4 linked regions of the Homo sapiens genome follow. The protein of the gene in region 1 purifies or fractionates together with the protein of each later gene. This does not show direct contact. Each region holds a gene or a part of one and is shown in the gene's direction. Other genes may lie near its edges. The genes, in order: RUNX3, RCBTB2, ZBTB17 and RBPJ.

Evidence for each region.
Region 2: the proteins of RUNX3 (region 1) and RCBTB2 purify together in Homo sapiens (affinity purification with mass spectrometry; one large-scale study listed by BioGRID and IntAct). This does not show direct contact.
Region 3: the proteins of RUNX3 (region 1) and ZBTB17 purify together in Homo sapiens (affinity purification with western blotting, with the first as the bait; one study listed by BioGRID). This does not show direct contact.
Region 4: the proteins of RUNX3 (region 1) and RBPJ purify together in Homo sapiens (affinity purification with western blotting; one study listed by BioGRID). This does not show direct contact.

What each region holds. Positions count from the first base shown.
Region 1 is NC_000001.11:24,902,505-24,906,276, reverse strand, and holds part of RUNX3 (runt-related transcription factor 3), read left to right. Parts: intron 1-3,610; coding exon 3,611-3,772. UniProt on the Homo sapiens protein: Forms the heterodimeric complex core-binding factor (CBF) with CBFB.
Region 2 is NC_000013.11:48,522,811-48,526,582, reverse strand, and holds part of RCBTB2 (RCC1 and BTB domain-containing protein 2), read left to right. Parts: intron 1-1,825; 5' UTR 1,826-1,924; intron 1,925-3,772.
Region 3 is NC_000001.11:15,973,238-15,977,732, reverse strand, and holds the start of ZBTB17 (zinc finger and BTB domain-containing protein 17), read left to right. Parts: upstream 1-1,631; 5' UTR 1,632-1,750; intron 1,751-4,495. UniProt on the Homo sapiens protein: Transcription factor that can function as an activator or repressor depending on its binding partners, and by targeting negative regulators of cell cycle progression.
Region 4 is NC_000004.12:26,425,377-26,429,148, forward strand, and holds part of RBPJ (recombining binding protein suppressor of hairless), read left to right. Parts: intron 1-3,343; coding exon 3,344-3,484; intron 3,485-3,772. UniProt on the Homo sapiens protein: Transcriptional regulator that plays a central role in Notch signaling, a signaling pathway involved in cell-cell communication that regulates a broad spectrum of cell-fate determinations.

The sequences.
Region 1 (3,772 bases):
GACCAGGTCCACAGTCTCCACAGTACCTGCTCCCAAGAACTTTCTGTACTTCTGAGGGGACAGATAAAGGGGCCTGGAACAGGGCTGCCAACCGGTCTGCCTGCCCCACCCCCTTTTCCGGTGCCACGCTGAGGTGGGGGCCGACTGGGTCTCTCTACTGACATTGTTCCAGGCATAGTGCTGCAGCCAGGGGCTGGATGCAGGCCTTCAGTGTGAAGAGAGGACCCCTCCCCTTCTGGCCTGGGCTCAGGACTTTTGGCCTTGGTCCTGCTGAGACGCCAAGGTTGGGAGAAGCCCCAGGCCCAGCCTCTCTGAGCCCAGGAGCTAGTGCATTTGAGACTCTCAGCTCTCGAGCCCAGGAGTTGGAGGTCTGCTCTCAAGAGGTAGCGGAAGGAGCCCTGCACGCTGTGCTCACGCCCACCCCTGCCGCGTAGCTGCCTCTGCTTCTGCTACCCATGGGCCAGCATCTGTCGAGGTGCAGTAGCCTGAGAGCCAGCCTTTCTCTGCCATGGACAGAGCCAGGCCAGGGGATCGGGGCTCAGCGGGGGAGCCAGAATCCAGGAGGTGGGGTGAACAGTGGCTTCCTGTCCACCAGCCCCCATGGAAGGAGAGCCCACATCTGCCCATCCACTGCTGGGTGGGCACAGCTTGGGAATCAATGCCTGGCCCCACGGCAGGCACAGCTGCTGCTTCCATCCTGGGCTGGGAGGAAAGGAGCCCAGCCTGTGTGGGGCAGTGGCTGACTTCTGCTTCTCTGCCTGCTCCCTCCTGAGGCCTGGCCCAGTCCCTCGCTAGCCCCCCACAGCACTGGGCCACAGGCAGCCAGGCATCTCCATCCTCAGGCCCATCCCCTTTGGGTGAGAGAAAGGGCCTCGGATGACCAGGACAGGGCGAGCATGAACTCTGCAGTCAGCTGGACCAGGCTAGGAATTCAGGCTCTGCCAGGCATTGGCTGTATGATCTTAGACAAGTCACTTAAACTCAGCCTCAGTTTTCTCATCTGTGAAGTGGGGAGAAGGAGGTCCCTGACAAAGAGGGGTTGCTGGCAGACCTAGGCTTGGGAAGTCACTCTCACAGGCCCTCCTCCCTCTGCCCTCGGACTCCCTCCTGGGGATCCCCCTTGGGACACCCCACCACCACTTCCCTCGGTGCCTGTTAAGTGCTTTGACCCTCCAATATTGGTCACTGGCAAGCAGTGCAGAGACCCCAGCACCTCCCATACCCCAGCCCCAGCCCCCAGCCGCAGCCGCCCACAATGGGGGCTTCTCACAGCTGAAAGGGCTCATTCAGCCACCATGCAGCAGCCCGGACAATCTGGAGAAGAAAATAAACATTTCTTTCCACTGTTGGGATTGGCCACTCGACAGTGCCCCGGGCAGCTCGGGTTTCCTGGGGCTGCGAGGCCGCAGGGTGGGGGTACAGGAGCTCCAAGGAAGCTGCTGGGGGGTCTGAGGGAGTGCTGAGGGCAGGTACTTCCCCCACCACCCCGGAGGAGGGGTGGTGGCCCTGAGGAAAGAGGCTGGAGGGGATGGTGGCAGGTCCAGGGAGGCCCAGCCCAGCGCCCTGCAGCCCGCGTGAGCTCTGAGGGGCACAGTCCTGCCGTTGTATCCTGCGGTCCCCATTTGTTTCCTTCGTCTTGAGAATGGGGTTCCCATCAGGCGGCCAGCACCCACTTCCACCCCACCCATCTCAGCTGTGCTGACGTGCCCAGCACCTGCAACAGGACCTCTCCCCCCGAGGGGCTCCCCAGATGAAAACTGGCAGCCAGGTGCCTCGGAGGCTCTCGGCCTCAAGGGGCCGGGACAGCCAAGTGACCTACTAGGGAACATCCCAGATGTCCCAGAAGGCCCCCGCCACCCAGACTGCTGTCCCCACATCTTCTTACCTTAAGCCAGGAGCATCACTCCGTTCGGATCCACGCCCAGGGCCAGAGTACGCTGCTGAGGGAAACATACCCCAGCTGACTTGGGAAGACCCCAAAGCCCCGAGAAGTTCCAAGTCCCAGCCGAAGTCACACACACCTCAGGCTCATAGCTCTCCGTCCTCAGCCAAGCCTCGGCGTGGCAGGCAGAGCCCACTCCGGCTAGCACCGGCCCTTATCCTTTGGTGGGTGACACAGAGGGGTTGCTGGGCTGGACAGACTGCACCTCTGGACCACTGCTGGGGGCTCATCCACCTCCCCCGGCTGCCAGAGTAGAAGGGAGGCCCTGCACCAGGGCCTCAACTTGGCAGGGCCCTGAATGAGCCAGTTCTCCTGGGTACCCAGAGTAAGAGACACCACAGCCACAGTGGCCTTGCAAAGCCTCATGGACCCCTGCTCTGTGCCCAGTGCCATTCTAAGTACTCGATGTGAATTAACTGAATCCTGATGAACTGTTATCGTCTCATGTTTTATATGGGGAAACTGATGCGCAGAGAGGTTAAGTGACTTGCCCAAGGACACAAAGCTAGTAAGTGTCCAAACCAGGATAACTGTCCGGCTCCAGAAGCCACACAGTAAGCCTTGATCCTGTGCTGCCTCAAAGACGGGACAGCTCCCTCTCAAGTACGTGTTGGGGCTCAGGACCAGAGGCCCTAGGATTGTGTGCCAGGTCCAATGTGCTGTGTGACCCTGAGGGAAGTGCCTCACCCTGTCTGGGCCTCAGTTTCCCCATCAAGGGTGTTAGACTCAATCCCTGAGCCCCTTTGAATGCTGAGGTTTTGGGGGTCTGTGATGACAAAAGTTGGGGACAGAGGATGGAACACCCTTGCCTTGGAGCCCATTGAGAAGCCACATTCCTGGGGGAGCAGGGGCAGAGTCTGGGCTGGACACTGTGACCAGGTTGGGGTCTGGGTCCCCAAGTTTGTCTGACTGCTGTCTCACTTTGCTGCCAAGGCAGGTTAGGGTGGCATCCAGTCACTGTGTGGCCACGAGTCGGCTCCAGAGACACAGGCCCAGGGTGAGGTGGAGGCCAGAGCTCCTGTGAACTCAGTGCCCACAACCCAGGTGTGAGCGCACAGAACCTCCGCGTGCTGCACCTGGGCAGGAGAGGCACGTGTGTCCCCAGCAGAGGCCTTGTGATGAGAACCAGTCCTTTCTCTGCCACAGAGACTCAGTCTTGCTCTCTCTCTGCCTCCATTTTCTTGTCTTCAAAAGCGGGTTCCAACTCCCAGTCTCACACGGTCATTGGAGCCCTTTACACATCCACGGCCTTCCCAGCTGTTAACATGGGCCGGTGGGGAGAGGAACCTGCCTGGGCAGGGCTGCTGGGAGGCCTGAGCTGACTCTGCCCTCAGCCCCACCACCGCATCCTAGGCCTCTCCTCTGCGAGGCTGGGAAGGAGGATTTAAAAAGAAGAATAGACCCCCTCCTCTGTTCTGTTGCTGCTGTGGGGGGGCTCCCATGGCCCCTCTTGGCCCGGGGCACGCTCCAACCAGCTTCCCGGCAGGTCTGTGTTCGGAGTCCTGGCGGGGGAGGCCCCGGGCAGCCTAGGGCAGGAAGAGGAGAGCCAGGTCTAGAACTAGGGGTCCCCCAGATGGGCCTTGGGAACCAGAGCCCAAGGTCATTCTTCAGGAAGCCCTCCTGGGGTTGTCTCGAGCTGGAACTGACCTCTTCCCTGCTGTCCTCCAGGCACCTCGGAACTGAACCCATTCTCCGACCCCCGCCAGTTTGACCGCTCCTTCCCCACGCTGCCAACCCTCACGGAGAGCCGCTTCCCAGACCCCAGGATGCATTATCCCGGGGCCATGTCAGCTGCCTTCCCCTACAGCGCCACGCCCTCGGGCACGAGCA
Region 2 (3,772 bases), on another chromosome or scaffold:
TGCAGTGGTGCGATCATAGCTCATTAAAAAAATTATTTATTTTTTATTTTTTGAGATAAGATCTTTGTCACCCGGGCTGAGTGCAGTGGTGTGATCATGGTTCACCGCAGCCTCCACATCCTGGGTTCAAGCGATCCACCTATCTTAGCCTCCCAAGTAGCTGGGACTACAGGCGTGTACTACCACGTGTAGCTAATTTTTAAGTTTTCTGTAGAGACGGTGTCTTCCTATGTTGCCCAGGCTAGTCTCAAACTTTTGGGGGCCTCAAGCGATCCTCAAAGTGCTGGGATTACAGGTGTGAGCCACCATGCCTGGCCTTCCTAGGGTATTGATTCAATTTTATTTTACAGATGGCTAAAGAAATTATAGTTTATGAGTTTTCATTACCAAACGTTTATTGAATTTCCATGTCCTTGGTAAAGGCAAAATTAGAATGATAGCATTCTCATTTTAAGAGTTTATTTTCTTTAACATTGGGTAACCTTAATCTCTCCATCCTGAGATGATTAATTTAAGCTTAAAATCTTGAAAACCATCTTGTCAGATGGAAAAGCTGTAGCATACCAATTCATTGACAGAGTTACATGGGACCTTTTATCTTTGGTATTCCCTCCACCAAAACTTCCCCACGAAAAAATTCCCATCAAAGTCTAGCCATGCATATGTTGGTATCCATAACACATTAAAATAGTACTGTCTTCTGCATGTTTTAAAATGTTATCAAATATCAAATGTTATCAAATGATACCATATGTATCATTTTGTGACTTAGTGATTTTGGTGAACATTGTTTTGTAGATATACCTGTTTTGATTCTAGATAATTTATTTTAATAGCTATATAGTATGCATATGCCACAGTTTATTGGTTTTGTTGATCAATTTGTTCTTTCTTGCTTTTTGCTATTGGGAATATTTGTGTGTATGCTCTAGAGTTTATCTAGGGCAGTGTTGCTAAAATTGCAGGACTTGTTAGTGATCTGGAAATTAGTGGGCTGAGATCAGCATTTTCTTTTAAAATGAAATTGAACAAGATAAAATAGGATAGAGTAGGGTAGAATAAAATAGCATAAAGTAGAAAAATGGAAAAGATATCAAGCATCTCATGTAGGAGGAGTAAGAATTATTTTGTGAAATTTCAGTTATATATACATATATAACTGAATATATATATATATATATATATATATATATATATATATATATATATCATGAATCCTTTGCTCACTTTTGAATTGTGTCGTTTGTTTTATTCTTACTGATTTGCAGGCATTCTTTATATATTTTGTGTATGGATCCTTTCCAAGCTGTCCATTATGCATGTTACAAATATCTTCCCCCATTCTGTGGCATATTTTTCCTTTTGTTCAAGTTTACTGCTCTTTTCTTTGTGTTTTATGCTTTCCTGTCTTATGTATGAAATCTTTAACTGCTCTGAGGTCATAAATATATTTCTATACTTCTAAAAGTTTGAAAGTTTTGCTTTTTTTTACATTTCCACATGGATTCTCTTTTATTTTCCATATGGAAATACTATAGATTAAATTCTCCTTAGTGTGCATTTTTTCATGTGTTTCAGTGTCCAAATTGTTGAAACCCTCTCCTGAAGCTTATAAAGTATGATATTCTAAAGTTACATTTTATAACTTTAGTATTTTTATAATAGAGCATCTCTGCTGCTGACTTTTTAATAGTAGATAGCACAGATACAATTTTTAAGCTGTATTTTTCTCAGATAAAGAATGGATTGTTAAATGTGCAAGACAGTATATTCTTTTCCTTCTGTTTTTCTCTAATAGAATTTATTTGTGTATTTATATTTCCAGTCACATTAACTTTGCTCTAGAAGACAACTTTACAAGGATCTAAAAGGAACAGGATTAAAGATGACTGAATACTGGGTTCCAGAAATTTAAAACAATCAGGTACAAAAGTTTTTGGAGGGAATGCTCCCAGCCAGTCAGTATAAAATAGAACTGTTGAGAATGTACACAAGAAAAACTTAAAGTATCTAGCCCTGAAATACAGTGGAGGGTCCCAAAACAAGGGCTTTGGAATAGTCCTGGTTCAAATACTGGCTCTGACACTGATTGGTTGGTGACTATTGGTCACGTTACTGAAATGTGTGAATAAAATGGAGGCAATGATTAACCTGTTTCATTTGGATATTATAAAGATTAAATAAGGTGAGGCACTTAGTGCCTGGCACAGAATAACTTTATTTTTACTGTTGTTATTGCTGTTGTTATTTAGAATACATTTTATCACATCATGGATATGGCTTTCTGTATGTATATTGTGAATTGTTATTTTAAGTATATATATCAACATATTGTTAATAGCCTGGTGAAATCACATGGATAACAGGGTAAGGTAATCTCCACGTGTAGTGCACAAACTATACATGCAAATTGGGGATGATAGTTTTCTTTATTATGTATGCATCACATTGAAATAATGTAAAAAAAAAAGCCAACCATCTCCCACAATGCTAAAAAATTCAAAACACTTTTTAATAGTATTATACAATAGTAATTAATCTTGATTTATTTTTAAATCTTGAAGGACTTTCTGATTGACAAATATGAAATTATGTTAATCTTACATTTCATTCAATTTGAATCCTGCATGTCATTTCTTTGAATGTGGTAATTTCCATGACATACATACAATTATGTCTTAACCTGATGTCAGATAAACAGAATGGCCTGTTTTCCTACCATTCTAATTTTAAAGAGTTTAATTTTACTTGAAATTGATAAAAGACACTGAAAAGAGGTTATTTCCTACTCAAAAGCCCAGGATCGGTTTTTCATGATTTTAGCACATTAGGAAGATTTCCCTTCTGCTAGGAACGAAAGGGGGCCTAGGGTAGTGCAGTGAGGGGCAGTCACATCTCTACTTGGTCCCTTCTTTTTTCTCTTCTCTCCCTCTTTCTTCTCCTCTCCTTTTATTTTTTATTCCAGTAAACTTGGGGCAAATATGGAAAAAGTGTTTCCTGATAGGGTGAGGCAGAAGGAGAGGGAACTTTGGTTACAGGCCAGTTCCAGTATACAAAAAGCTGGGTTCTAAGGATGCTTTGTATGAATACGTTGCGTTTTACTCTGAGCCATGGGCTGTGGGTTATAGCAATGAAGGAATCGTCTGCCCTTTTGAAGAACTTACCAATTAATAGAGAAGGTACATCATACAAGAATAACTGTCATATGAGGCAGAATTTGAAAAATGCCTTCAATGTAGTTAAAAACAAAACAAAAAGTGCTGTGGAAATACAGAGAAGAGGTCCCAGCCCATTTGGGTAATCAGGATCCACATTGATGTAAATCTCAGTGGCAGTCATGCTGGGTCTTAGAGAAAATTAGGATTTTAACAGATCTGCTAAGATGCCATAGATAATATGTAGTAAGTATTAATTAAAATGACAGAATATCTTTCCATATTGTCAATCAGATCGGTTTATAAATTTTTAAGTGAGAAACTTCTAAGTAATCTTCTAAAAAGCAAGCATATCTTTTTTACTTGTTTCCAAATGTTAGAAAGTAATACTTTGCTATTAATTTTCATAATTTTAAGTTATAATAATTCTGAATAAATTATGATTTCTCGTATTCTGAGAGATCTTTTTATAGCTGAGGAAAAAAATTACTAATATCCTCAAGGGCATAGAAAACATTGATAAGGAACACTGTTTAGACTTGGCTGTATTTTGATTATTGTTTTTATCTGTCTATTATGAGGCTCTCACTCTACTGTAGAAAATACCAGATAAAATG
Region 3 (4,495 bases), 8.9 Mb from region 1:
GCGTGAACCTGGGAGGCGGAACTTGCAGTGAGCCCAGATGGCGCCACTGCACTCCAGCCTGGGCAACAGAGCAAGACTCCATCTCAAAAAAAAAAAAAAAAAAAAAAAAAGACTACACCTTGGGTAGAATGTACACTGTTCAGGTCATGGGTCCCCCAAAATCACAGAAATCATCACTAAAGAACTTATCCATGTAACCAAACACCATGTGTTCCCCAAAAACTACTGAAATAAAAATTAAAAATATAGTTAAAAAGAACGGGTGAAGTTAGCCAGTTGTGGGTGCACATGCCTGTAGTCTCAGCTACTGGGGAGGTTGAAATGGGATGCTTAAGCCTAGGGGTTTCAGTCCAGCCGGGCAACATAGCGAGACCCCATCTAAAAAAAAAAAAAAGAAAGAAAAGAAAGACGGCCGGGCACGGCGGCTCACGCCTGTAATCCCAGCACTTTGGGAGGCTGAGGCAGGTGGATCACGAGGTCAGAAGATCGAGACCATCCTGGCTAACATGGTGAAACCCCGTCTCTACTAAAAATACAAAAAATTAGCCAGGTGTTGTGGCGGGCGCCTGTAGTCCCAGCTACTCTGGAGGCTGAGACAGGAGAATGGCGTGAACCCGGGAGGCGGAGCTTGCAGTGAACCGAGACAGCGCCACTGCACTCCAGCCTGGAAGACAGAGTGAGACTCTGTCTCCAAAAAAAAAAAAAAAACCTAAAGACAAGAAGGGGTGAAGTCAACTGCTGGGCTTTTTTGTTTCTCTAGCCATTGTGAAGACAGGAGTGAGTTGCCAGATTGGCATATGTTGCATCCCACTGAAGGCTAGTGGACATGAATCTCTAGGGAACAGTCTCCCCACTGCATACTTTCTTCAGCTGTGCTTGGCTGTTTGGGAGCTAACAAAGAGAAAAGGTGCATTTGGATTCACACAGCGTTGGTATTCTTACCAAATCCATGTGACAAAAAGGCAAGGGGGCAAAAGAGCTTACAGTAGTGGCAAGAGTGTTGTTAAAATTATAGATTATGGAAAATATGCAGGCCTAGAAGTAAACAAAGGAGAAAGCCCTCAGACTGTGAGAAAGTGGAGAAGTCAGTGGCCTAGAGCTACCAAAAAGGTAGAAGAGGGGCCACGGAGGGGCCATGCAAGTCTGCAGACACTTTTGTTTTCAGACACCTTTATTCACGTCCAAGACAATCAGGGAAGGGGATAATGTTCGGTTTAGAAGGTAGAAAAACACAACTGGGATCTGCAGCTTTGAAGCCACAAGTAGATTCATATCTCCGGTCCACCACTTACAAGATATGTGACCATGGACATTGATTTACACTTTTTGAGTCTGTTTTCCCTTTTTTAAAATTAGGAGAATAATACTATCTTATAATTGGTGTGAGGATTTAAAGAGATAATGCATGTAAAGCGCTTAACACAGTGCCTGGCACACAGTAAGAGCTGAACACATGATGTTACTGTTATATTTGGAAGAGAAACCAAGGCAGGGGTACAATGAGGACAACTCTGAGCGCCGAAGTACTGTAAGGTGGAACTTTTGGATAGCTAGGCGCATGCGTCTGTCTATGGGCGCTCTCCTAGCGAGGACGCTGCGCATGCGCCGGAAGTTGCAGCCGGGAAGCCTGCGAGGTCGGTTCCGCCCGACTCTAACATGGCGGCGCCCTTTGTCTGCTCTGGAGTGCCGTCCCCGGCCTTCTCGCGGCCGTGATGCACCTCCCTCTGCGGTGGGGTCCGGGACATGGCAGGTGAGTGTCAACAATCGCCCGGGGCCGGGGAAGTCCCGGGAGCCGGGGCGGAGGCGGCGGAGGATGGGGCGCGGTGGGACGCCGGTGACGGTTGTGTGGGGGAGGGGAGGGAAGTGGAATGGGACGCCAACCGGGGCTGAGGGGACACCGCTGGGCGGGAGATTGTGGGGTGGCGGGGCGGGGGGCGTCGCCGGGCGTGCTGGCGGGGAGTGGGCGGCCAGGCGACCGCCCGGGCGAGGGGGCGCGTGTCACCTCCCGGGCTGGATGACACCCCAGCTGGTAGCATCTCCGCCCCCGCCGCACGGCTGTCACCGCCCCTTGACCCCGCGCGCTGTCGAGGGTGGGCGTTCTGCGGCCGCGAGGGAGCGCAGTGCCGGGGCAGCTCCTGTCGGCCGGCCGGGGCGGGAGGGAGCGGGGCTGCCCGGGCCTAGGAGGAGCTGACAGAGGAGGCCGACGCTGTCCCTGTATAAAAGCATTTCATTCATTCATTCGTACTGCGGACGGTGGTTCAGCACCTGATAGATGGTGAAGCTAGAGCGAGTGATGCGGGCGGACTCGATCCTCCAGGATCCTCGATCCTGGAGTTAGGAGTGTGAACCGTGGAGCCCAGCAGCGGGGTTTGAATCCCCATTCCCTGCTGTGACCTTAGGCACTTTTGGCTTTTTCTCTCTGCCTGGGTTTATTCATCCTTTAAGCAGAGATGATAATAAAATCAGCCTCCTAAGATTGTAATAAAGGGGAAATGAGGCTCCTAGAACACTTATGGGTACAAAGTAAATGCTGTGTGTTTGTTGCTGTTATTAATTGTATCACCATTGTCACCCAGAGCTCAGAGACCCATGTGGGAGACATACAGGTAAATCAGCAATTCTGATACTGCTGCGAGGGCAGAAAGCCCTCCTTCCTCTGAAGCACGGAGTAGAGACACATCACTCAGCCTAGGGGGAATCCCGGGAGGCTTCTGTCCCCCAGAAAGCTAAGATCTAAGGGAAGCTCAGCGGAGTGAGGCAGGAAAACGGGTATTCCCAGTTAAGGGTGTAGTTTGTGAGAAAACTCATCTTCGTAGAGAGAGGAGAGAGAGATCAGGCTAAATAAAGAAGCAGACTGGGCCGGGCTCGTTGTCTCACGCTTGTAATCTCAGCACTTTGGGAGGCCCAGGCGGGCAGATCACTTGAGGTCAGGAGTTCGAGACCAGCCTGGCCAATATGGTGAAACCCCCGTCTCTACTAAAAATACAAAAATTAGCCGGTCGTGCTTGCGCGCGCCTGTAGTCCCAGCTGCTCAGGAGGCTGAGGTATGAGAATCGCTCGAACGCAGGAGGCGGAGGTTGCAGTGAGCCGAAACGGCGCCACTGCACTCCAGCCTGGGCGACAGAGCGAGATTCCGTCTCAAAAAAGAAAAAAAAAAAAAGCAGCAGCAAGCTGTGGTCTGGTCTTAGGGGACGTTGTAAACCTAGTTAAGGACTTTAAACTTTAGGTTAATGGGAAGCCATTTAAGAATCAGATCTGTGGCCAGGTGCGGTGGCTTACTCTGTAATTCTAGCACTTTGGGAGGCCAACGTGGGATGATCATTTGAGCCCAGGAGTTTGAGACAAGCCTGGGCAACATGGCAAGACCCCATCTTTATTAAAAGAAAAAAAAAAAAAAAGGAAAAAAAAAATAGCCGGGCATGGTGGAGTACACCTCTGGTGGTCCCAGCTTCTTGGAAGGCTGAGGTGGGAGGATTCTTTTATTTCCAGCCTGAAATAAAAGAATCAGGTTTTTTTTGTTTTTGTTTTTGTTTTTTTTTTTTGAGACTACGTCTTGCTCTGTCACCCAGGCTGGAGTGCAGTGGCAGCATAATCATAGTTCACTGCAGCCTTGATCTGAACTCAAGTGATCCTTCTGCCTCAGCCTCCCAACTAGCTGGGACTACAGGCGTGCACCATAACACCTGGCTAATTTTTTAAATTTTTAGTAGAGATGGGGTCTCACTATGTTGCCCAGACTGGTCTCGAACTCTTGGCCTCAAATGATCCTCCCGCCTCAGCCTCCCAAAGTACTGGGATTATAGGCATGTGCAACCATGCCTGGCCACGAATCAGATTTGTGGATTAGGAAGATCACTCTGGCTAAGTGAAGAATGTATCAAAGGGAGTGGGCCTGTAGGCCAATTAAGAGCCTGCTAGAATAATCCAAGTGAGAAATAAAGGTGTGAGTTAAAGGCAGAGAGTGAGGAGAGATGGTTTTAGCGATAGAATTGACACAATTTGGTGATTAGTTTGATGAGAGTTAGGGGCAGGGAGGAGTCAGGATCACCCCAGTTTTTGACTGATGGGTGTTGGATGCTGCTCCATGTGATAGGGAGCAGTACGGGGAGCAGATCTGGGGGAGGGCAGATATGTTTAGTTTTGAACATGTTGGAGTTGGATGCCTGTAAAACATTCAAGTGCACCTGTTCAGCTAGTAGTTATCACCATCAAAGGTCACTGAAGTCATGGGAGGGGATGAGCTCACCTAGGGTAGGGTATGCAATGAGAAACAAAGTGTCCAGGATATCCCAGAGCAGTGCCAATGCTGCAGTAATGCTTGGATACAAACCTTGTCGTTTTTCCTTCTTAACATTGTGTCCTGTCTCTTATTGAGCTGGAGTTCTTGAGAGCAGGGCCTGAGGCTGAGTCTGTGCATCTTTGTGTCCCAGTGTCAGCATGCTATCTGGCACAGAGCAGGCCATTTATTCAGCACTTCCTTGGGCCAGGCTCTGTG
Region 4 (3,772 bases), on another chromosome or scaffold:
GCCCTGGCATCACTTGAGCTCAGGAGTTCGAGACTAGTCCTGGCAACATGGTCAGACCGTCTTTACCACTGACCCCGCCCCCCCAAAAAAAAAATTAGCCAGGCATGGTGGTGCACACCTGTAGTCTCAAGCTTAAGTGGGAGGATCACTTGAGCTCGGGAGGTCAAGGCTGCAATGAGCGGTGATCGTACCACTGGACTTTAGCCTGGGCAACAGAATGAGATCCTATCTCAACAACCACAGAAAAGGAGATCTTGAAATTGTAAAAACTACTTTTGTTAGTAAAATGAAAACAAAAGTCCTCTATAGTGCCACCACCCTCCCAATTTTCCCTCTCCTTTTCTCAAACAATATAATTTACTTATATTCAAGATGAAGGGGATTTATGAGTAAGTTTGATTCAAGGTCAGACTGAAGAGGTTGGGTGAGTAGAAGAACATTTAGTATTAATGTTCCTAAACATGCCTCCTATTTATCTTTTTGGTGCAATATTCCACTGGCTTATATTTTCTGGGGTCATTTCAGCAGAGGCTGGTTTGATCTACAGTTTTCTAAGCCAGTGATTCATTTCTTTGTTACTGTTTTTTTTTTTTACCCTCTGTCATGATTGTACAAGGTGATTTTATTTCCCATGTCAATGCAATAAGCTAGAAGACATGAAGTATAGTAATAGTAATCTGTAAAGCTTTGCAGCTGAGACAAATTATAATAAAAAGGGTAACGTTAGGGAATGAAGGGCATGAAAAACAGAGCAGGAGACAGAAGCAAGCAAAAAATCTGAATCAGCATTTATTCATTTTTTTTCTCTTCTCATTCATTTCCTCTGTTCCAAGGATGATGTTCATTTGCTTTGGTGTTAAATGCTTGTACTGCAGAAGCACAACTTAGGAGGATGATTCTGATCACCAATAGTTTATAATACAAACCACTTAGAAGACAGACCCAAATTTAAAACAATGTTTTCATTTACAGTTGTTTGTAAAGTACCAGTAGCCTGCCTTGCTTGAAAGTCATTAATTGAGGTTTTTACACTCAAAACTGTATGGCTTTATATAAAAATGTTGCAATGAAAAATTAACTTATTAGAAAAAGTTGCAGTACCATTATTAAGACGCTGATACATAAATCTTTCCAGGGGTTTCATGACAGGAATTCTGACATGCAAAGTCGAGTGCCTCTCGTCATTGAGTTTACATTTTGATAGAGTGATAAGCCAAATACCCATGTAAAGGATTTATGTAGTGATGAAAAAACAAAACAAGATAATAAAGGGATAGAGAATTGGAGGAGCGCTTAGAGAGGTCAGGGAAGTCTTTTTGAAGTCGCAGTATTTGAAGAGAGCCCAGAATGAAGTCAAAGAACCGGTAATTGAGTGAGGAGCATTTCAGGCAAACAGAACAAGTACAGAACTGAAGGCAGGGGATGTATGATGACTAGTAAAGAAACCAGTGGAGCTGGAGCGGAGGGAGGAGAGGTCAAGTGGCAGGAACTGAATCTGTAAGGTTAGCACTAAGCAAGACCTTGTAGGATCCCTCTCTGTATCTAGGGTAAGGACTTCATATTATCTCTGCATGTTAGAAGGCCACTGGAGGATTTTAAACGGGGCACGATGGCCTATTTTTGTTTAGAAGTATATGTGTGGCTGCTGTGTGGAGAAGAGAGCATAGCAATGCGGCCGTGGAAGCAGAGAGACAGGTGCTTGGATTGTTGTCATAATTGAGGCAAGAGTTGATGCTATCTTAGACCCAGGATCATAGTATTAAGGTGGTGAGGGGTGACTGATTTGTTGGAAAGTGGACCTGACAGAATTTGCTGGCAGATTGGATGGTTGGGTGTGAGAGAAAGCAAGGCATCAAGGGTGACTCTTAAGGTTTTTGGATTGAGTGAATGCTAGTGCCATTTATTGACCTAGATGAGTTGGGGAAGGATCAAGTTTAGGAGGAAATCCAAAAATCTGTTTTCGATATGCTAAGCTTGAGGTGCCTGTTAGACATCGTAAGTGGAAATGTTGAATAGGTAGTTAAGTGTACATACAAGTTGAATGCAGGAGAGAAGTCTGGAGATAATAAATTTGGGAGTTGTCAACCTTTAAATTTTTAAACAGTATAGATTATAAAGAGAGGAAAAGAGGGCTGAGAACTCAGCTCTGGGCATTTTAAAGGTCAGTTGGAGCAGTTGTGGTCCTGAAAGCAAAATGTGTTGAGAGCTTCTGAGAAAATGAAGTAAAATGAGGACAGAAAAGTGCCGTGAGATGCATCTGTCTGGAAATCCTTGGTGGCTTTGAAAAGCAGTTGTAGTGGCGTCTTTGAGATAAAAGGTTGGAGAGATTGCAGGAGATTGGACAGTGAGGAAGAGGCGTTTGCAGAAAAACAGGTAGTGAGAGGGAGGGACAGGAGCATGTAGTCAGTGTTTTCTTTACTTTTGATTTTGAGATGAGAGATAGTTATGTTTGTATGTTGTTGGAAGTGATCAATAGAAAAGGAAACAGAGTAAAAGTTCTGTGTCAAATTTTGCTCTTCATCATGATCATCTACTTAGCCATTACCTTCTAGGTGTCAAGTGTCATATAGGGTTTGATAGTATTATCTTTCAGATATTCATGTGTTTTGTAGACTAGTTGCGTTATAAGCTTTAGAGATCAGTTGGACAGGCAGCCAGCCCTGGGATCAGGACATATTCTGGTCCTTCAGCTACTAAACTGGTAATTTTGAGCAATTTGTCTGACCTTTCTAAGCCCATTTTGTAATCTGTAAAATGAGTTTGATTTTGTTATGTTTTTAAATACGTAAGTTTTGGATAATAGATATAAGACGTTTGCACTGACAGTAGCCTTCTAGAGATTTTTCCCTTTGATGTTGGAGTATTTGTCATTTTATGCATATTATTGGAAAATATCATTAGAACTTGCTGTTCAAAATATGGTCTGTAGGCCAGCAGCATTAACATCAACTGGGATTTTGTTAGAAATGCAGAATATCAGGCCCCACAAGAGTCCTGCTAGATCAGAACCTGTGTTTTTCACAAGAACCCCAGCTCATTTATGTGCACATTAATGTTTGAAAAACACTGATCTAGAAAACAAGTGCCTGCCTGCCTGATTTTTTTTTTTTAGATGTTCAGGGAAGAGGGTAACAGTTTCTACATTCTGACATGCTTGCAATCTAAAAGTGTTTTTTATTCCTAGTCTTTTTGTTTGTGAATGTTTTTATATATGTAGGCATAGGACAAATAACTGTGATGTATTATTATGCAGTATATAGCTTCTATGTACTTTTGATGTTTTACACAAGGAAAATCCTTTCCATGTGTGGATGACCTTTTATTTCTTAATTGTTAAATATAGATAATTAGGAAAGTTGATAAGCAGACCGCATTATTGGATGCAGATGATCCTGTGTCACAACTCCATAAATGTGCATTTTACCTTAAGGATACAGAAAGAATGTATTTGTGCCTTTCTCAAGAAAGAATAATTCAATTTCAGGTATGTTTTTAAATTACTGGTGAAATCTAAAATGTACAAACTGTGAGGTTAGCAGCTTGCAAAAATATGAAATTTTCATTTGCTGTTAATTATATACAAATACATGAAGCTATACACAGATATTTATCTCAGGTATGAGCATCCTTAACACACAATCCTCAGACATGCAAGCAATCCTTCCTCAAGGAAGAACTCAAAATTATGAAAATGTTCTCAGAGAAAACAGTTAACATCTAGTTCCAGGGTTCTTAATTGAAGAACAAAGAGCCCCTCAGGATATCCAAAAAT